Linked DNA regions of Homo sapiens: all the other regions are reported to be linked to region 2. Evidence: microRNA targets listed by miRTarBase, many of them from high-throughput screens and not tested one by one. Region 2 holds a microRNA gene; each other region holds the end of a gene's coding sequence.
Evidence for each region. Region 2 holds the annotated microRNA hsa-miR-1-3p (UGGAAUGUAAAGAAGUAUGUAU, at 3,424-3,445, shown strand). A microRNA usually pairs through its seed, bases 2 to 8, with sites in the 3' UTR of a target mRNA and lowers its output. Matches are read on the target gene's strand: a 7mer-m8 pairs with bases 2 to 8, a 7mer-A1 pairs with bases 2 to 7 and ends in A, and an 8mer does both.

Region 1: miRTarBase lists OAT as a target of hsa-miR-1-3p. Seed matches in the 3' UTR shown: 8mer at 5,797-5,804 and 7mer-m8 at 5,339-5,345.
Region 3: the mRNA of PSG9 is a reported target of hsa-miR-1-3p. The part of its 3' UTR that is shown has no 7-base or 8-base seed match.

Annotation. Positions count from the first base shown.
Region 1 is chr10:124,392,057-124,399,169 of GRCh38, forward strand. It overlaps OAT (ornithine aminotransferase), which reads right to left. Exons shown (of 10, transcript NM_000274.4): 10 at 5,247-6,046. The coding sequence ends at 5,886. Among named protein-coding and RNA genes, the nearest start is that of OAT, 23 kb to the right of the region's middle.
Region 2 is chr20:62,550,928-62,558,043 of GRCh38, forward strand. MIR1-1 (microRNA 1-1) reads left to right here and starts at 3,379; the gene lies at 3,379-3,449. CRMA (cardiomyocyte maturation associated lncRNA) reads right to left here and starts at 634. Exons shown (of 7, transcript NR_033263.1): 1 at 499-634. It overlaps MIR1-1HG (MIR1-1 host gene), which reads left to right. Exons shown (of 4, transcript NR_171007.1): 1 at 1-111; 2 at 2,538-2,738. RefSeq lists enhancers at 1-488, 5,793-6,664.
Region 3 is chr19:43,247,169-43,254,281 of GRCh38, forward strand. It overlaps PSG9 (pregnancy specific beta-1-glycoprotein 9), which reads right to left. Exons shown (of 6, transcript NM_002784.5): 6 at 6,114-6,478. The coding sequence ends at 6,441. LOC284344 (a long non-coding RNA gene) reads right to left here and starts at 1,478. Exons shown (of 9, transcript NR_033888.1): 1 at 1,323-1,478; 2 at 840-955. RefSeq lists an enhancer at 2,689-3,189.

The DNA.
Region 1 (7,113 bases), not on the chromosome of region 2:
TGCTGGGAACTTCACAGTCCTAGTGCTTGAAACGCATTGTCACTTTCACCTCTGTTATTCTGGGTACATCAGATGTCCTATCCCAACCTCAGTTTTCTTATATGTGCAGTAATTAATTTAGATGAGGTATTCTGGAAGGTCAGAATCCAAAGAACAAGTTATCATTAGGGGGTGTGGAGAGTGAAGGTGGTGACTATTTAAAGTGCAAAAATGTACCAAGATTATCATCTTTCTTTTGCACATATCTAAATGTGCATCTGGGCACCACATACTCTGTGAGTTCTCCTCTACTTTGAACCACTCCTCCCCGAAGAAGAAAAATAACTTTTTACCTGAAGAATGTGAGCCCCTTTAAATTATCAGGCCCAGAAAAGTATCTAAAATATAATGGCAGTCAGGTCTCACTCCCCCTTGAGCTAAATAATTACCTCTCGAAGCCCCTTGCCATGCAGCTCTAGACTAACTGAAGCCAAATGGCCACAAAAACGCCATACATCCTGTACTTCAACAATGAATAGCCAATCAGTAACTAATGCCAATTCTCTAGACCAATGAAAATTCCTAATAAATAAGTTTTATAATCACCCCTTCTCCTGATTTTTTTTTCTTTATAAATATTCTCCAGAGCACTCCCCAAGGCAAACTGATGATGTATCCTGGGCTGCAGTTCTCAAGCTTGGCCCAAATGAGAAGATTTTTCTCGGCCCCTTTGCCAGGCACGCAGCAGGAGGCACCCCATCTACTGGGCCTGCCAGGCCGCATCTGGCTTGCACTCCGGCGCAGATCCCACAGCAGCTGCTGCTGCATGCTCAGGCCCTGGTGGGAGGGGGTATGTGAGTGAGCAAGTGTGGGGTCCAGCCAGCCATTCCAAATGCTGGCACAGGGGTGGGCTCCATGCGGGGTTTGCAGCTGGACCAGGTGTGTCACTCCAAGGGGAATGCAGTGGTGCCCAGGCAGGGGTGCCCATGACCCTAAAGCCCCAAAAGAGTGTTACAATGTGCTCATTAGCTCTTTTAGTCCCACCATCCATAGCCCAACAGACGGTGGCATGTTAACAGCTCAGTCAGCCCCTTGCCCCATTCCAGCCCGCAGCTCCGGGGCCAGCTCCGCCCCATCACTACTTTCCATCACATGAGGCATCTGCCCTCTGCCAGTGAAGGGCAGAGGGCCACAGTGTTACAGCCTTGTGAGTACCCATGTTCAGTGAGTCTGGAGTTCTTGTCCGTCAAAGAAGAATGAGGTCACACTGGCAACTGAGGGGTGGTGAGGGCAGAGAAGTTTATTAAGCGACAAAACAGCTCTCAGCAGAGAGGAGACGGGAAGGTGGTCTCCTCCAGTGTGGCTGAGTCTGGGGTTTTTATAGGCACAGGATGGGGGAGGGGCAGGCCATAGGTAGTATCAGAAAAGGCAACATTCAACTGGTCAAAAAGCGTTATTCAGAAAGAACCAATCGGGAAAGAGTGGGCAAATAGGAACAGAAGTTCTCACTCTGGGTCACAGGTTTCATCCAGAACCAACAGTTCAGTCTTTCAGACTTCAGGCTGTTTTTGGCTTGAAGGTGGTGTTTCACTGGGGACCGCCCCTATCAGCCTAGGCATTTTGTCTGCCTCCTGCTATCATGAATAACTTTATGATTATTAATTTTGCCTCAGCTTCTTCCTTTAACTTGACATCCCCTTTGTGATACAGCCAGGCTATCAGCTCTACGCCATCTCTTCCTTATCTAGATGTCACCCTTATCTGAAAGAATCCTTCTCCCGAAGCTTCCTCTCTCCCAAACTCCTCCAACTGTATGTGTTGGGGGTGGGGAGGGGGAGCTAGCAACTTATTTATTGATCTGTAATTCTGTGCCAGGTCCTCCACCAGGAGCTTGACCTACTCCATCTTTTTTAATCCTCCTAACTCCCCTGAAAGGTAGATAGCATCCCACTTCCTCACAGCTAAGGAAAGGGAGTATCTAACCACAGCAGTTGCCCTGATGTTCTACCCCAAATCCAAAGCCTGTGTCTGACTCTCCCTGCCTCCCGCTTCACCACCCCTCCACTTCATCCCCAGGGCACTAAGTGCCGTCAGCAGGTTCCTGCCCACCTGTTCACCACTGGACATAGGCCCTGAGGCCCTACAACCAGTGTGTACTGCATGAGTAAGCCCTAAACCATCAGCCAGAAAGGATTTTCTTTTGTTTGTTCCTTTTTGAGACAGAGTTTCGCTCTGTTGCCCAGGCTGGAGCGCAATGGTGCAATCTCTGATCACTGCAACCTCTGCCTTCTAGGTTCAAGTGATTCTCCTGCCTCAGCCTCCCGAGTAGCTGGGATTACAGGAATGCACCACCACGCCTGGCTAATTTTTTGTATTTTTAGTGGAGATGGGGTTTCTCCACGTTGGTCAGGCTGGTCTCAAACTCCCGACCTCAGGTGATTCGCCCACCTCAGCCTCCCAAAGTGCTGGGATTACAGGCATGAGCCACCGCACCCAGCCTAGGATTTTCTAATAGGATCACGCCACGCCCCTGCTTCAACCCCTTTCTTCAGTGACCCCACTGCTCACCAAATTAAGCCCAAAGGCCCTCATTGTCATTGGCCACCGTCTCCACAACTCCCTGTACTTTCCTACCTCTGGGTCCTCTCTGACTTTTAAAGCCTTCAAAGAATTTAGCAGGAAGATAGCTTTGTTAAAAATCACCTGCCCTAAGGTCATCTCTGGTGAGAATAACTGAATGCAAATTAAACTGACTCATCATAATAATAGTATGTCCTAAGGCAACCTGCAAATGTGGAATCTCCAGTACACACACACAGAGAGAGACTGAATTAGAATCTGCATCTTAAGGCTGGGCACTGTGGTTCACACCTATAATCCCAGCACTTTGGGAGTCCAAGGCAGGTGGACCACTTGAGCTAAGGAGTTCAAGACCACCCTGGGAAACATGGCAAAACCCTGTCTCTACCAAAAATACAAACCAATTAGCCAAATCTGGTGGCACACGGCCATGGTCCTAGCTAGTAGAGAGGTTGAAGTGGGAGAATCGCTTGAGCCTGGGAGGTGGAAGTTGCAGTGAACCGAGATCATACCACTTCACTCCAACCTAGGTGACAGTGAGACTATGTCTCCAAAACAAAAATCTGCATCTTAATAAGATTCCTAAGACAGGTTCTCAACCTTGAATGCCCTGGAGAGCTTACCTGGCCTGGGTGCCACCCCAGTTGTAATTGGTATGAGGAGGCCTCCCAGTAACTGCTCACTCATTTAAACGTAGTCATTCAGTGACAGAGCACTACCCTGACAGAGTACCAAAGACTCAACTCTCATACTGCTAAGAGGTAACTTTTTAGAACCTGGGGGAGGCAGGGAGCAATGTGACACAATTAACTTGAGTTTTTTTTCTTTGAAAAGCAAGTCACTTCTAGGGATTTACTCCATAGAAACACTGTGCACTTTTGCACCATTGTGAAAAGATATGAAGTGGTCACAAGTTTTATTCAAGTCAAATGGTCCCAATATGAGATGAAATTACAGTATACCCATATATGATGAAATACTAATTATTTGAGAATAAGACGGAAAAACATCCAAAATACTCTGTTCAGGTAAAAAAAAAAAAAAAGAAAGAAAGAAAAAAGAAAAAGTTGCAGAACACCACATATAAAAAGGATAACTTTAAAAAAATGATAAATATTAGTATATGCACAGAGAACGCGCTACTTTGAAAGGGAAGTATGAGACCTATCTTTTAGATGTATTCTTTTTATAACTTCTAGTTTTCTGTAGATCAGAGTTGAAATGCTGTTAGAAAACACATGGAATATGCCGGGCACAGTGGCTCATACCTGTAATCCCAGCACTTTAGGAGGCCGAGGTGGGTGGATCACCTGAGGTCAGGAGTTCGAGACCAGCCTGACCAACATGGTGAAACCCCATCTGTACTAAAAATACAAAAATTAGCTGGGCATGGTGGTGTAGGCCTATTGTCCCAGCTACTTGGGAGGCTGAGGCACAAGAATCATTTGAACCTGGGAGGCGGAGGTTGCAGTGAGCTGAGATCACGCCATTGCATTCCAGCCTAGGCAACAGAGCAAGACTCTGTCTCAAAAAAAAAAAAGGAATACAAAAAAAAGAAAACACATGGAATAAATAAATCTCAAAAAGCTTAAAAATGTAACTGATAGGCTGGGCGCAGTGGCTCACGCCTGTAATCCCAGCACTTTGGGAGGCCGAGGCAGGTGGATCACAAAGTCAGGAGATCAAGACCATCCTGGCTAACACAGTGAAACCCCATCTCTACTAAAAATACAAAAAATTAGCCGGGCGTGGTGGCGGGCATCTATAGTCCTAGCTACTGGGGAGGCTGAGGCAGGAGAATGGCGTGAACACAGGACACGGAGCTTGCAGTGAGCCGAGATTGCGCCACTGCACTCCAGCCTGGGCAACAGAGCAAGACTCCATCTCAAAAAAAAAAAAAAATGTAACTGATAACACTGCAGTAATAGCATAGTGACATGGGGAATAAAGAAATCTTGTAACTGAAGAACGTGAGCCCCTTTAAATTATCAGGCCCAGGCCAGGCACAGGGGCTGATGCCTGTAATCCCAGCACTTTAGGAGGCCAAGTTGGGGGGATCGCCTGAGGCCAGAAGTTCAAGACCAGCCTGGTCAACTTAATGAAACCCTATCTTTACTAAAAATACTAAAATTAGCTGGGTGTGGTGGTGCACACCTGTAATCCCAGCTATTCGGGAGGCCGAGACAGGAGAATCATGTGAGCCCAGGAGGTGGAGGTTGCAGTGAGCTGAGATCGTGCCACTGCACTGCAGCCTGGGCGACAGAGAGAGACTCCATCTCAAAAAATAAAAACTAAATTATCAGGCCCAGAGAGGCAATAGAATGAAATCATAGTCAGGTCACTCTCTCCCAAGCTACATAATTACCTCTTGAAGCCAAGTATCTATCAAATGCCATATACCCTGTAGTTCAACAGCATATAGCCAATCACTAACCAAGGTTAGTTCTGTAAGCCAATGAGAATTCCTGATAAACAACTTTTGTAATCACCCCTTCACCTTGTGTCAGTAGAGGGTATAAGAGCAGCTGATCTATCCTTTTTTCTTTAAGAAGTGTTCTCTGGAGCACTCTCCAGGGCAACCTGGAAGTGTGTCCCGAGCTGCAGTCCCCAACCTTGGCCCACCTAAACATTCTATATTAATTTTGCCTCAGCTTCTTCCTTTTAAGGTGAATAATCATCACAAAACAGACATTTGAAATATAAGCTTTATTTTAAATTTAAAGAAGTATTGAAAATAAACATTTTTTACAAATTATAATCAAGCACTCAAAACAATTTAGGAATGTTAAACACTAATTCTTAATTCAAAATAATGACATCCATAGAATACAACCCTGGTGTTGGCCAATATGAAGTTTACTTAATATTAGTATTTTATATACACTTAACCATTAATCCTTCCTAAAATTCAATAACAATGATTTCACTTTATAAGATGAAGCCTTTTATGCAATACCCAGAGATAACTTTTTCAAATATGAAACACTTATACCAGTGAGGAAATTATAAAAACATATATCAATTATACTGAAGGACTTGATTTAGAGGCTGTCTGTATATAGATGCATTTCACCTTAGGAAGTACACATGCACATCAAAACACTTCAACTGAATATAGATGCCATTACATTATTTAGTTACGTTACAAAGCAAACGGCAGGTTCATAAACGTTGTTCTATTATGTATCAACTGAAAAAAATATATTCAAAAAAAAAGTTTTTGAAGACTCATGGGAGTGGAATGTGCCCACATTAGGAATAAAGCTTTTACAGGACCACCTGTCTCCAGCTGGCTCCCAGGGACCACTGAAAACAGCTGGCTACCCTCAGAAAGACAAGATGGTCTTGTTAATAATTTCAATGGACTCTCGAAGCTCATCCTCCTTGATCACCAGCGGAGGCGCAAACCTGATAATGTCGCCATGGGTTGGCTTGGCCAGAAGTCCATTATCTCGAAGTCGTAGACACACCTTCCAAGCATCCCAATCTAAAGAAAAATAGTAAAACGTACATGCTCAAAGATAAACGTTTAAACATCCCTTGCCGTATGTATGGGCAAAGTGCAGCCTGGCAAAACAAAATTAACAGAACTTGCTCAACTAAGGGAAGCTTGGGCTGGGAGCGGTGGCTTATGCCTGTAATCCCAGCACTTTGGGAGGCCGAGGTGGGTGGATCACGAGGTCAAGAGATTGAAACCATCCTGGCCAACATTATGAAACCCGTCTCTACTAAAAATACAAAAATTAGCTGGGCATCATGGTGCGCACCTGTAGTCCCAGCTACTCGGGAGACTGAGGCAGGAGAATCGCTTGAACCAGGAGGCGGAGGCTGCAGTGAGCGGAGATCGCGCCACTGCACTCCAGCCTGGTGACAGAGCAAGACACCGTCTCAAAAAAAAAAGAAAGGGAAGCTTGGAGCTGCAAGCTTGCTTTGTTTTTACTCCTAAAAATGAAGTTACTCTTCACTTTTCAGCAAGCACATAACTAGGTTTGAATGATATGATTAGACATATCATAGTTTTTCATAAATGAAAAAGACCAAGCCAAAAAAAAAAAAAAAAATGTGCTAAGGCTGCTGTATTAATCACACAAGGAACTAATGCAAAAGAACTTGGGTATAGGCTGGATGCAGTGGCTCACACCTGTAATCCCAGCACTTTGGGAGGCCGAGGTGGGCAGATCATGAGGTCAAGAGATCGAGACCATCCTGGCCAACATGGTGAAACCCCATCTCTAATAAAAATACAAAAATTAGCCTGTCGTGGTGTGGCACATGCCTGTAGTCCCAGCTACTCAGGAGGCTGAGGCAGGAGAATCGCTTGAACCCAGGAAGTGGAGGTCGCAGTGAGCCAAGATCATGCCACTGTACTCCAGCCTGGCGACAGACACTCCAGCCCAACAGAGCAAGGCACTGTCTCAAAAAATAAAATAAATAAAATAAATAAAATTCTAAAAAAGAAAAAAAAGAACTTGGGTATGATACAGATGATTAACTGACATAAAATGGGCAATACTCAAAACCCAGTGAACACTACACATTCCAAAAAGGGACTCG
Region 2 (7,116 bases):
GAGGTGGCTGGTGCTGCCGCCGCTGCAGCATCTCCTAGGGAGCCGCGACCCTGCGCCCGCCGCCGCTGCCGCTGTCACCAGCCCGGCCCCAGGGGTGCCCTGGGCTCCGCGGTGAGTCCTGCTCAGCCCATCACCACCGCTGGGCCGCCGGGACGGCCCCTGCAAACTTGCCGGGCACCGCGGTGGGGGGTGTGCCTGCCAGCGAGGTGGGTGCTGCGGGTGCCGGCGCCGTGCGGCTCCGGCGGGGGTGCCGTGGAGTTTTCTCTTGGCTCGCGGCATCATCCACATTTGGAAAACTGCAGAGCCAGCAGCCGGCAGGGCCTGGAGGGCGCGTCCAGCTGGGAGGCAGGAACTTTGACTTGCGGGCATTTTGCAAGAAAGCAGCGGCCCCCCACGCGGGCAGTGGATGGCATGGGGGCTTCGGGGCTGGGCTGGGGGCGCGATTCACCTGCCGCTCCGCAACAAAGCCCCGGCAGCCGGGCGTGGGGCTAAACTTACCTTGAACTTGCAGTATCCCCCACTGAGGTGCTGGTGGGGGGCAGGGATTCCCGAGCTGAGCGGCGGCGAGGCTGCCCCCGGCCGGGACTCGGCACTTCTGCAGCTCTCCCAGCCACGTCAGGGTCAGGAGGCGTTTACAGGGGCAGGGCGGCGAGGTGGGGGGCGGGGGGCACATGTGGGCGGAGACTAGGGGGGCTTCGGGGAGAGCAGCCCTGGTGGTCGGCGTCTGTGCAGGTCCCTGCTGGGGAGCTTGACTTCCCGCGTGGCCTCCCGCGGCGCTGATGCCGGGGGCCGGGCGGTATTCACCGCTGAAGAGCCCCGGAGGAGGCCCCGGGCACAGGAGCCAGCTCGGCTCACGGTGGGGTCTGCTTGGAGGCGGCTGGGTGCTCTTTTTCTATGCAGACGGGAAACTTTTTGAAAAGTGACTACAATTCATTTGTGAGTGGGCAGAAGTCCTGTGGACTCTGGCTGGGTCTGGGGTGACTCTCCTGCCCTTTGGGACTCCCAGCTTTCCCCTTGACCCCCAGACCCCGTCCAGATGAATGCCTCACAGGTCGTGGGGGCTTGAGCCAGGCTGCGGGAGTGTCCCAGGCTCTGAGAGCTCATGTGCCAGGGAGCTGGGGACGTTGAGGAGGCCTTTTCCCTGGACTCCGGGGACGGTTATTGCGGAGGTCTTGGGAGGGCACAGATGAGCGGCGGAACCCAGGTGCCCCCGAAGTTGAAGCTCAGGCTGCGGTGTCGGGTGCCCTTTTTGTATCCTTGGCTACGTGAAAATGATAAATCACAGCAGCTACGTGGAAATGGGACATCAGCTTCTGCTTCTGTCTGCCATTTGCTCCTTCCTTTGTAGAGGGGATGCCTCCAGAGCCTTAAGCACAACCCCCACCCCCCGCCCCCACCCACCCCCACGTGAAACTCCAACCCAGCCATGCCCAGCTGCAGACCCACTGCCACACAGCCACAGCATGCTCAGTGGCCTCTGCACACTGCAGGCTCTGCGGAGACATTGCCCTGCCCTGGGTGGTAAGAGAGAACCAACTCGCTCCGGGCTGTCCCCTCGCATGGACGGGCTGCCTGGAGGAGCAACAGAGTCATGTTGGACCTCTCTTCCTGATGAGGACAACGGGAGGTCCTTTCATGTCCCGGGGCTGCTGTCCCACCCCACGCCAGGGTCAGTGGCAGGACAGGGGCCAGGGCCCAGCTGGACCCCACCGCTTAGCAAGCCTCCTGTGTCTGTGCCCGGCCTGCACCCCCAACTGGCGCCTCCCTGGCCCCCGTCCCCCCCAGGCACCTGCAAAGCCTTCTTTCCACCTCTCACCACCGCACGTGCCAGGCTCGCCCTGGGCCACTGCGAGGCCTCGAAACCCTGCAGGCCTCCTCCTCCTCCTCCTCCTCCTCTCCCCGCTCCCAGCAGGTTCGGGGCGGCTTCCCTTCCTGCTGGTGAGGGCCTAACCTTGAGGTCCCATTGGTCTCCTTCTGGCTCTTTCTCCACATTTTTCAGAGTCTGGCTTCACGGCTGGTCATAGAAGTTGGCAGGGAAGGAGGCAGCCTCTGCTTCCCACTCAGAGACATTTTTAAACGCAATGAAAAACATATCGATACAATTAAGTATTCCAAAGTGCTTAGTTTGCCACTCGCTAAGTTTACTTAAACCCTCTTTAACAGGCTCATTAGGAGCTGGTGAGCACCGGGAAATTCATTAACAGGAAGGCGGCCCCCTGCATTTGACTGTAAATTGGTATTGATCAGGGGCTGGTGGAGGCTGGGCGGCTGGCCACAAAGAGCCAGGTGTGGGACCAGCCTCCCGGGGGTGCCACGGCAGTGGCGCTGGGCAGGTGACGGTGGCTGCTGACCCCCGGTGCCCATGTAAGCTGCTGGCTCTGCGCAGCTGCCGCTTCAGGTGGGCCGCACTGCGCGGCGGTTCAGGGTGGTGACGCTGCGAGGCGGGGACGGGGGAGAGGGTGAAGAAGAGCGAGAGAAGGAGGGAGAGAACCGGGGGAGCGACGCTCCCTCGCCCACTGGGTGTCTGCTGTGGCCAGGCTGAGGCACCTAGGGAGTTGCCCCCCTAGTGGACGGCCTCTCAGGAGATCCTGACCACCCTCTGGGAACCTGGACTCCTCCAAGCATCGTCTTTCTCGCCTGCATCTTCGGAGAGAGGTGCTGAGCCCTTCCTCATGGATACGGGGTCCCGGGAGGCAGCCTTCACCAGGGACCTGCCCAGGAAACCAGCAGATGCCCAGGTAAGCCCCCAGGACACCTCTCGGGTCTCTGGTCTGCAGTTCCTCGTCTGGCCTCAGGAGCAAGGAGTTGTCCAGCTCCCGGAGAAGGAGGAGGCTGGTCCTGCGAGTGGGGTGCTGGGCAGGGCGCCCCCCAAGGTTCCTCTCTCCACCCAGCCCTCTCTGGGCTTGGCTGGGATGAGGTGACCCAGGGGGACAGGAAAGTGTTGGCTTTGAAAGTTTGGGACATGGATGATGCCTCCCTGCTCTGGGGTGAGGGTGGAGGGGCAGCCTGTCTCTTCCATGGACGCAAAACCGAGCTACTGCTGGGGCCAGGGACAGGCGCTCGAGACTTTCTGGGGCTCACTGTCCACTTCTGCCTTTCTGGATCGTGTGAGTGTGTGAGACAGACAGAGAGAGATGGATTCAGGGATGGAGGGGCGCCGAGGTCAGAAGGGGGCAGGGAGTCCTGGGCCCCTGGGGGTGGCTGGACACCAGGCAGCAGTGGCAGGAAGGCTGTCCTGCTCACACAGAGAGGGCTCCGGCAGTAGACTCCAGGGAAGAAGTTACACTGCCTCTGAGCTGCCTTCTCTACATCGCAGTGGGGTCAGCTTCTACCGGGGCGGCGTCCCGGGGTCTTGGAACTGCATGCAGACTGCCTGCTTGGGAAACATACTTCTTTATATGCCCATATGGACCTGCTAAGCTATGGAATGTAAAGAAGTATGTATCTCAGGCCGGGACCTCTCTCGCCGCACTGAGGGGCACTCCACACCACGGGGGCCGCCGCGGCCGACAGCCAGCCAGGCGGCTGTGGTGGGGGTGAGGCTGGGGCGGCAGGCTGCCTGGGCGTTGGTGGACGGTCGTGTCCCCGCCAGCATTGTTCTGTCACTTTGCCTGTGTCAGCAGGTGGAAGTGCTCACCAGACATTAAATATTCAGCTTGCTGACTGCGGCAGAGGGGAGGCGGCCTCCGGCAGGCGCGGGGTCCAGCGCGGGGCTGGTGAGGGCTGGGGGGTCGGGGCCGTGGCTGGAAAGCACGGAGTGGTGGCGGCGGCTCTGGGGGCTCCACTGATGGCCATCCTGGAAGAGGCCATCAGCCGGCAGAAAGGGCCACGTGTGGCCAGGGCAGAAACTGCTCAGAGGCACAAGACAAGAGCGAGTTTGGAAAAGGGCAGGTGGCTGGATGCAGAAAGGAGGGAGAGGCTGGGCAGCACATGGTAGAGTCTGCGGAGGGAAGGCACCTCCTGCACCTGCATCCAGCCCTCCCGGCTGTAGGGCAAGGCAGAGGAACTCGGAGGCATGTAGCCTCCAAGGAAGGCGCAGCCCACACGAGATGCTGGGGACGCGGGCAGGGTCAGGGCCACCACTGCCCTTAGGCCCCACTCCTCTGCCGAGGGCACCTGGGACAGGGTCAGAGGAGCTGAGTCTGTGCAGCCCTGAACCCACAGCCCACCCCAGGGGCCTGGGAGCCGTTCGATTTTGCCAAATGTCTGGTTCATGCCGCCCCAACCTGTACCCCCACCAAAGCCCCGGTTCAGCTTTCTCTCTGTTCCGCCGAATCCAACCTGAGGCATGTTTTGCTGTGAATGCAGGTGAGGCTTTGGCAGAAAGCAGCGTGTGGCCCAGGGCCCCTTGCCCCACCTGTCGGGGGCCTGAGAGCCATCTGCTCTGCCGCCATCCCAGTCCTGACCCGAGAAAGGACTGGGAGGATGTCCTGGGGCCCAGGGGATGAGGGCAGGTCCGGATCCGTCCGTGAAACCCTTTTCCCCAGTGCTGGTCCTTCAAGGAGAGGATGGGCGGCGGGTTCTGGGGTCTTAGGCAGCGGCTGGGCTGCTGTGTGAGGGGCGTTTGCCCGGCTCGTTTCTGAGTCTCAGATTGGAGGCGTTTGCCACCTGGGATGAGGCCAGGTCCCTGCCTGGGCACCCCCACCCTGCCACAGGCCTCAGGATTAATTTCTGGGGTGTGTGTCCTCTCTGCCTTGGCACTGCTCCAGCCACAGCGGTGCCCCTGTGCCCTACCTCCCGCACCCTGGCCTTCGGCAGGAATGAGGCGGGAAGGGACAGGCAGGCAGCCCCCTCCTGCAGCGGCTGGAGGCCTTGGGTCTGGGGGCAGCCAGGTCACCTGAGCAGCTGGGGCCAGCATAGGGAGCGCTGGATAAAGGGATTGGGGGCCGTTCTGAGCTTTCAGGTGGCTCCCACCCCTCAGGGAGCCTCGAGGTGACTGGAGGGGAGGGCCTGGCAGTCAGGGCTCCTGGCCTTCAGGTCTTCCTTCTGGAAACTTCGTTCTCCCAGCCTCAGCCCCATCTGGCGTAGCAGCAAGGGGGCGGGTGTTGACCTCGGGCACAGCCTCCTCTCGGCCTCTGGACCCGGAGGGTCAGTGCCCAGCATCCGCTGACGTCATCTCTTCCCTGCCTGCTCCCAGCTCCGGCCACAGGGAGGGAAGTAGCCGGGCGTGTGGCCACCGAGGCTGCCGGTGGCCACAGACACACCGTTCTTTTCCCCTAGATGCGGCTGTTGTACATTAAAGCTTTATTGCAGGATGTGGTGTTTAAATAAAAGCATTAGTGTTTTGGAATTAGGTTTGACTGAGCAGTAAAACTGGAGAGTTCACAGGGAGAGAGCTGCGGCCTGCTTGGCGGTAAATCACCTCCAGTCTCTGATCTGCTGAATTAAAAATGAGCATTGCACGGACACCGCCCATGGCAGCCCGAGCCCCTCTCCCCTGCACGTGTGGCCTGATGGTGCTCCCTGGGGATCCTGCTGCTTTCCTGGAGACACTGGGACCCGGGGCTGGAGTCTCCCATGCGTGAATCTCTAAAGCTTGGCTCCCGGGCAGCAGCCAGGACGGGAACCCCAAACTGGCGTGGGGCATGGACACGCTGGGACTTTCCCCTGTGGGGGTCTTTGTGCCTGTCCGTTTGAAGGAGGGGAGAGCAGGCAGGGCGGGGGCACAGACCCTCACTGGCTATGTCTTGCCCGCAGGGACTCTCCTGAGACGGCTTAGGCACGCTACCATGGGGGCCGGGACTCTCAGAGGGAAATGAGCCTGGACTGGGCTGAGGGGGCTGGACATGGGACACCCACCCCCTCGCCTGCCAGCTCGGGAACCCAGGTGGGTTTGTGTGGCCATGAGGAGGTGGCCAGTGCCGGTGTCTCTCACTCCCTAGAGCAGGTAGCACCAGGTGTAGGCTTCTGGGTTTCCCAGAACACTCTGGAAACTGCCCCACGGTGATCAGAGGCTGGGCCAGGCTCCCGCTCGTGGAAACAGCCGCTGCAGAAATTGTGGAGCTCATAAATTCAGCGGACCAAATTAGTTACCTTTTTCTATCCTATGGCTCACAAAAGCTAGCTATGCTCCAGGCACTGTTTCCACCCGTGAGTGAGACCGGCTCTGGGTCCTGGAGCTTGCACGCAGGAGAAGGACGGTCTTTGGGAAGGGACGGCCCCGCTGCTGTGCCTGCACGCGTGTGTCACGATGAGTGGTCTTGCATTTCTGCAGCCAGGGGGCCGAGGACATAGTGGCACCCCCTTCTAAAGAGGGGGCCTTTGGTGATTCTGGCTTAGTAGTGCATTCAAGTGCAATACAGTGTTTTATTGCACAAGCATTCAAAGCAGGCGCAGCGGCTGGTGAGAGCATTCGCGAGAGGTGCGTCGGCAGTCTCTGTGAAACTGTCGGGCTCACATGGGGAACGTTGCGTCGAAGAATAAACTGCTATCAAGCATGATTAGATTGACCCACAGGACAGATATTTTAGATGCCGCAGCCGGAGTCAATCAAAATGAACATCACTCGAATTGCAAATTTTACCCAAAAAATGCTCTAAAGTAAAAATGAGAGAACCTGAGTGGCCCGAGCCATCTTCAGGGCCAGGGCGTGGCTGGGCAGTGCTGGCCTGAAGGGTTTCTGGGCAGGGATGGCCAGAGGTGGGCGGGGCGGTGCAATGCCGTGAGTCGCTGCCACCTTCGCATGAAGGGTAACCCAGCAACCTGAGGGATTTTGTGCTGACTCAGCCCCGCCGTGCACGTCCGACTGCAGAGGCCTCCCGTGCTCTCTGCAGCCCTGCTCCTGCCTTTGATGCCCCCGGGCAGGATGCTGACCTCGGGGTGGCTGGGCTTGGGCCCCAGCAAGGGAGGCTCTTGGACAGGAGCACAGGGCTTTGTGAGGGGCCCTGGCCTTGCCCACTGTCCTTGGCCAACCAGCAGCCTCTGTCCCTGTGAACTGGAGGCATCGCACCCAGGAAGAGCTGGGCATGGCTTTTGGGAAGGGAAGGCACCCGCAGACAGTATCAGCAGCTCCCAGAGCCTCGTGCTGTCTGCTCCTTCCTGAGGTCCCAGGCCCAGCTGGCCAGAGCTTGGGGCTGGGAGGGCCCTCCCCGGAGGCCCCTGGGTGCCCAGGGAGGA
Region 3 (7,113 bases), not on the chromosome of region 2:
TCCAGTTTTTCTGTTCTGTTTTTTCCCCATCTTTGTGGTTTTATCTATTTTTGGTCTTTGATGATGGTGATGTACAGTTGGGTTTTTGGTGTGGATGTCCTTTCTGTTAGTTAGTTTTCCTTCTAACAGACAGGACCCTCAGCTGCAGGTCTGTTGGAGTACCCTGCCACGTGAGGTGTCAGTGTGCCCCTGCTGGGGGGTGCCTCCCAGTTAGGCTGCTTGGGGGTCAGGGGTCAGGGACCCACTTGAGGAGGCAGTCTGCCCATTCTCAGATCTCCAGCTGCGTACTGGAAGAACCACTGCTCTCTTCAAAGCTGTCAGACAGGGACATTTAAGTCTGCAGAGGTTACTGCTGTCTTTTTGTTTGTCTGTGCCCTGCCCCCAGAGGTGGAGCCTACAGAGGCAGGCAGGCCTCCTTGAGCTATGGTGGGCTCCACCCAGTTCCCTCTTCCAGGCTGCTTTGTTTACCTAAGCAAGCCTGGGCAATGGAGGGCGCCCCTCCCCCAGCCTCGCTGCCGCCTTGCAGTTTGATCTCAGACTGCTGTGCTAGCAATCAGCGAGACTCTGTGGGCATAGGACCCTCCGAACCAGGTGTGGGATATAATCTCGTGGTGCGCCCTTTTTTAAGCCCGTCGGAAAAGCCCAGTATTCGGGTAGGAGTGACCCGATTTTCCAGGTGCCATCTGTCACCCCTTTCTTTGACTAGGAAAGGGAACTCCCTGACCCCTTGTGCTTCCTGAGTGAGGCAATGCCTCACCCTGATTCGGCTCGTGCACGGTGCATGCACCCACTGTCCTGCGCCCACTGTCTTGCACTCCCTAGTGAGATGAACCCGGTACCTCAGATGGAAATGCAGACATCACCCATCTTCTGTGTCACTCACGCTGGGAACTGTAGACCAGAGCTGTTCCTATTCGGCCATCTTGGCTCCTTCCCCAGTTGTTTTTTTTTTAATCTGTAAAAACGGGGATGGTGGCACTTGGGATTTTTTTTTTTTTTTTTTTTTGAGACGGAGTCTCGCTGTGTCTCCCAGGTTGGAGTGCAGTGGCGCGATCTCGGCTCACTGCAAGCTCCGCCTCCCAGGTTCATGCCATTCTCCTGCCTCAGCCTCCCAAGTAGCTGGGACTACAGGCGCCCGCCAACACGCCCGGCTAATTTTTTGTATTTTTAGTAGAAACGGGGTTTCACCGTGTTAGCCAAGATGGTCTCGATCTCCTGACCTAGTGATCCGCCCGTCTCGGCCTCCCAAAGTGCTAGGATTACAGGCATGAGCCACCGCGCCCGGCCCGCACTTGGGATTTTTTGGTGAGGACTGTAGTTACCTGGAAAGGCCTTAGGATAGTGCCTGGTACATAGTGAGTGCTGCATCAGTGTGAGCTATTATAATTATGGGAATAGACAAAGGTGCCACCCTGGCCATCCAGAGTGGGGAGGTATTTTCCAGTCAGGGTCCAGGCAGGCCAGCTGGAGATGAAGCTGATTAGTGGGGAAGCTTAACTTCCAGGAGTGGAAGAATTTAGGAGGAGTAAACAGAATGCACAACATTCTGTAAACATTCCTTTACCCAACAGTAGGAATGCTCATAGTGGGTGTGGCTTCCGTGACAATCATTATCTCTTGGGAATTTAAGAATGTGTCCTAGAGTCAAATGGCTTTGATGTAAGCCAAACCCAGAAATGGGCTTCAGGTCTGCCTTACACATAGCATTCATTCATCTTGAAAAAGGAAAGCATTCATCTTGCTAAAGGAATCCCCTCTTCTGGCCCAGGTCATTATTTTTGTTTTTGTACTGTCCTAATTTTTAAGGTGTAAGGAGAAAGACCAAAGAATAAAATAATGAAGTACATGTATGAAATAACAGGGTAGAATTGAGACTGGTACGTGTAAGTTAAGAGAAATTGTGTATAAATTTTGTGTGAATAGAAAAAGGATTTCTTGTTGCAAACAGACCTCTCTATATAAATAATACCCATTGCCTTCAGTGGATAGCAGACTGCATCACAAGAACATTCCAGCAGAGTCACGAGAGAATGGGTAGTGTGGCTTCTGTAATTGGCAGGTTAGACAGAGTAAGTTACTGAAGAGAAAGGAGTTGAAGGAGAAGATGGGTGAGGGCAAGAAAAATGGGAAGGTGAAAGGAAAGAACTGAAAGGAATGTTTACCAAGGGCTCATCAGGTACCAGGCTCTGTGATTAATGTCTCACACATGTTAATTTACTCTTCCACTGTCATTTTCTGATGCAGTAAGAGTCAGTCTTACACTGCAGATGAGGAAAGAGGCTGAAGGAGGTCAAACGAGTGGCCCAGGGTCATCCAGCCACTTCATAGCAGAGCTAGTGTGTTTCACTGTGGTTTGCGCAGACAGAAAAGTGAGACATGGAAGGAAGGCAAAACATTTTTCTTGTCGGTGATGTTTATGAAAGTGACCTGTATGAGGCAGAATAATGGCCTCTTAAAAATGTCCACATCCAGGTCGGGTGCGGTGGCTCACGCCTGTAATCCCAGCACTTTGGGAGGCTGAGATGGGCAGACCACGAGGTCAGGAGTTCGAGACCAGCCTGGCCAACATGGTGAAACCCCGTTTCTACTAAAAATGCAAAAATTAGCTGGGTGTGGTGGCGGGCGCCTGTAATGCCAGCTACTTGGGAGGCTGAGGCAGGAAAGTCATTTGAACCTGCGAGGCGGAGATTGCAGTGAGCCCAGATTGTCCCACTGTACTCCAGCCGGGGCAACATGAGTGAAACTCTGTCTCAAAAAAAAAAAAAAAATCCACATCCTAACTCTTGGAACACATTTACTTGGAATGCATTTACTTTTCTTGGCAAAAACACTGTTCAAAGTTGATGAAGTTGAGTATTTTGAGATGGAAAGCTTATTCTGGCTTATCTGGGTGGCTCCCTGTATCATCATAAGGGTCCTTGTGAGTGAAAGAGGAAGGCAGGAGGGTCAGGGTGAGAATGATGCAGTCTGAGAGACTCCACTGGCCATTGCTTCCTGTGAACATGTGTGATAAGACAAAATTACAACTAATTTAGTTATAGATGTAATTGGCTTTTATTTGTGATTTATGATTTGGGGCAGCTCTCCCTCTACAGATGCTTCAGCATCCCAAGTAGCTGGGACTATATTGCAGGATCTGGCCAGCAGCCTGCAATGCAACGGGGCTCTTTCTTTGTTCCCAGGCAGATTGGCAGGTTGAGAAATAAAAGACACACACAAGATAGTGAAAGCTGGGTCCAGAGGGGTCACTGCCTTCTGGTCCTGCGATGCTGCCAATGCACTGGATATACCAGCATTTATTATTAAGTTTAGTGAGAGTGGGGGTAGGTTAGTGAGGGATTTAGGGTCATTTATAGGCTCTCCGTAAGGGTCACATTCCATTCCCAGAGCTATGGACATCTGCTTTTCTGGGATAGGAATCTTGGTAATGTGAAACCTCCCTGACTGCATGTCCGTTCATAGGCTCTCTGCAGGGGGAAGCACATCACGTGCTGTTGGCTCATTCTGGCAGTCCAACCTGGCATTTGTCTTTACACAATCCTGCATGCAACTTTGTATTTACAATAATCAGGAGCATTTCATCTTTCATTCCGTAGCAATAGTTCAGGGGTTCTCCCTACATCTCTGCTTTTCTCTGATTTAAATGAACCATAGCAATCATAGCTTGGCACTGATCACAATTGGATTGAAGAACATTTTTTCCAATTTTACACATGAACAATAAACCAACAGCACAAATTATACACAGAACAAAATTAACGATAGTGGATCCTCCCAAAGATTTTACCTATTGAATGGGGTTGAGATTAGATAACCCCTCAGAGATACTGTCTAAAACTTCAGCACTGGGTAAAGCAGTTAAGTGTGCTTGAGAAGCTTCAAAAATCTGTTCTTTCAGCTTGCTTATGTCTAAACTTAAATTATCTTCACTTCCTTGTAAATGGCATATTACTGATTCCCGATTGTGACCAGACTCTTTATATTGGAACAGAGTTTTACAAAAATCAGAAGTGTTCCAATCAGGTTGCATTTGTAATCTATGTTCTAAACTCATAATTCTATCTCCCATCCATGTAACAGAAGCACATCCCGTGCTGTAGGCTCATTCTCGCAGCCCAACCTGTCATTGTGTTTACACAATCCTGCGTGCAATTTTGTATTTACAATAATCAAGAGCATTTCATCTTTTATTCTGTAGCAGTAGTTTCTGGGGGTCTCCCTACAGGACTGCAGGTGCACGCCACCATGCCTGGCTAATTTTTGTATTTTTAGTAGAGACAGGGTTTCACCATATTGATCAGGCTGATCTTGAACTCCTGACCTTGTGATCTGCCTGCCTTGGCCTCCCAAAGTGCTGGGATTACAGATGTGAGCCACTGCACCCAGCCCATAAATCACACATTTCTTTGAGTTTTTGTAATTCCAGCACAAGAGAAACCGTTTGATATTTGAAGAATGGCTGCACACAAATATTTGCACAGAAATAAAAACATCTGTAGATTCCACCACATGAGGGAGAATACCAGTATGACTATCAGGAGGAAAATATCAAGAGTTTGGAATATGCACCTTAGGCAAGATGCAAACCAACTACAATAGGATAGATCAAAGAAGAAGCCAGAAGAGTCTAGTCATTTTAACCAGGCAGCACATTTATTGATTTTTACAACTGAGTCTCTATAATACCCGATGTATTTATCCATGTGCAACAAGAAGTGTCAGAAACTGCACAGACTCCCCGCTGTCCAGCTGGTAGAGAACAATTCTATTATCTAGCATTGCATGTCTATGTTAAATTAAAACAGGGAGTGAGAATAGGCAAGTATAGAAGTGGAAGCCTAAAAAAAACTCCATACATTTGAGGAAAAAGTTGTGTTACAGATGCAGCTAACGTCAGCCTTTGTGTGGACTAAAGGATGTCTTGTTATGTAAAAATGTGTGGGCTGGGTGCGGTGGCTCATGCCTGTAATCCCAGCACTTTGGGAGGCTGAGGCATGCAGATCATCTGAGGTCAGGAGTTCGAGAACAGCCTGACCAACATGGAGAAATCCTGTCTCTACTGAAAATACAAAATTAGCTGGGCATGGTGGTGCATGCCTGTAATCCCAGCTACTGGGGAGGCTGAAGCAGGAGAATCACTTGAACCCAGGAGGTGGAGGTTGCTGTGAGCCAAGATTGTGCCATTGCACTCCAGCATGGGCAACAAGAGCGAAACTCCATCTTAAAAAAAAAAAAACGAAGTGTGGTTGACATGATATATCTGACACTGTTAACTTACTCTCAGAGGCTATTTCTGGTGAAATCCTAAGTACAGCATTATTCTGGGAAGCAAAGGAGACAGGCAAAAGCAAAGACAAATTAAGAGAGGTAAGAGTCTCATCATGACTGATAGTCTTGTTCTGACATCTTGAGAAAAGCTGTCCACAGTGTAAAGTCATCAGCTTGTCGTGGTTTGCAGTTTGAGTGTCTCTAAGTTATGGTGTTGAACATTTGGTGAGCTCTTAGTGGCCCCCACCTCAAACACGAGGGTTTTCCCATGAAATTTACATTGAGTTGTCCACCTCCACCTTATATGGCTTCAGGAACAGAGCCGCTCTTGTTCTTAATGATTTCATTGGAGAAAACTGAATTGGAAGAACTAAAAGAATTCAGGGTCCAGTCCAGTCTACCAGTGGATTATAAATACTCAAAGATAATGAACAGTGGTTCAATCTGGTAACAGGTGTACTACAGTTTTTCTTTTCAGCTAGTTTTTCTCTCTATCGGAGTCTCTATTTTTACCAAAGATAATTCCAATAAGATGAATTTGCTTGCAAAATAGGTTGAGTCTCACCGAACTTGCCCAGATTTTTTACCTAAGTGCGGCAAGAGTAGCAATGGACCATAGAGGCTCTTTTTAAACTTCTCTTTGCTAGAAGTTTTTAATAAGAATCTCAGATGAAACTTCCAAAAACCTCTTGAGACTAGGAAGCCAAACCAAGGCCCACTTCAGACTTTGCCTGCATTCCCTATGGGTTTATTCTATGTATATTCTCAAATATAACATCCCAGTCAAAGCCTTGGTAATATAACCAATGTTTTCAAATGTGTCCTGTTATAAAGAGAGCAGATTCTTACGGAACATGTGCAAATAACTTTATTACCATAAACCTATGAATACTCATGAATAGTTTCACAATTCTGGGGCATTCAGATAGACAGCAAAAGCAAATATTTCAATTTTTGTTTACAAAAGTATACTTTACCAATTGCTGAAGAAAAAAAGTTCATAAATCTGGAGAATAAAACATTCAAAGAATCAGCACATTTTCCAATAAAAAATTATGAAAACATTATCCTTTTGATTATTTAGTCCAATAACATTGAGTTTTTTTCTTCTTTGTCTTGAATTTCATGAAGGTATCAGCCTGTTCTTTTTCTCAGTGTCTCAGTTGTTGCAGTCATGACTGAGACTCTGTCAGGTCTCCATGGCAGGGACCTGATTGACAGAAGGCCCAGGTCAGTGCATTTCAAATTCACTACCTCCTTTACACAGAAAGCTTCTTTCCTACAGGCTCCCAGGAAGGGTGTGAAAGCAAGCCTAGTTCTCTGAGGCTCTATTTAACTCTAATGGGTGGCTGGTTGGAGGATTCCCCATCAGCCTTGCAAATACTCTTAGAACTGCATTGGTACCTAAAACTTCTTTCTCTTTCTTTTTCACAGGAATCAGCTCTGCATAGTGTTCTGTGGGTTCTCCCATACTACCTTCATGCCTGCTCCACATTCCCTCACAGGTGTCTTCCCTGATAAATTACCTTGTATGTCTAATCCCATCTTGGATGCATCTCAGTTGGTAAAAACTAACATACCAGACTTGATTCTTTGCCCTTAGCTTTTTTTTTCTCTCCCACAAGTAGTCAGTAACCATGTCCTAGTGTTTTATGTGTTACCTCTTTTTCCATATATATGGAAAAAGGTAGGTACTGTTGAGGTGCACTTCCTATGTGCCAGGCCCTGTGCTCAATACTTTACCTGTATCTCATTTAAGCCACACAATAACCCTGTCACATAGACATTATTTCCATTTTGCCGATGAAAAGACAGAAGCTTAGCATGGTGTAAAAACTTTCCTGG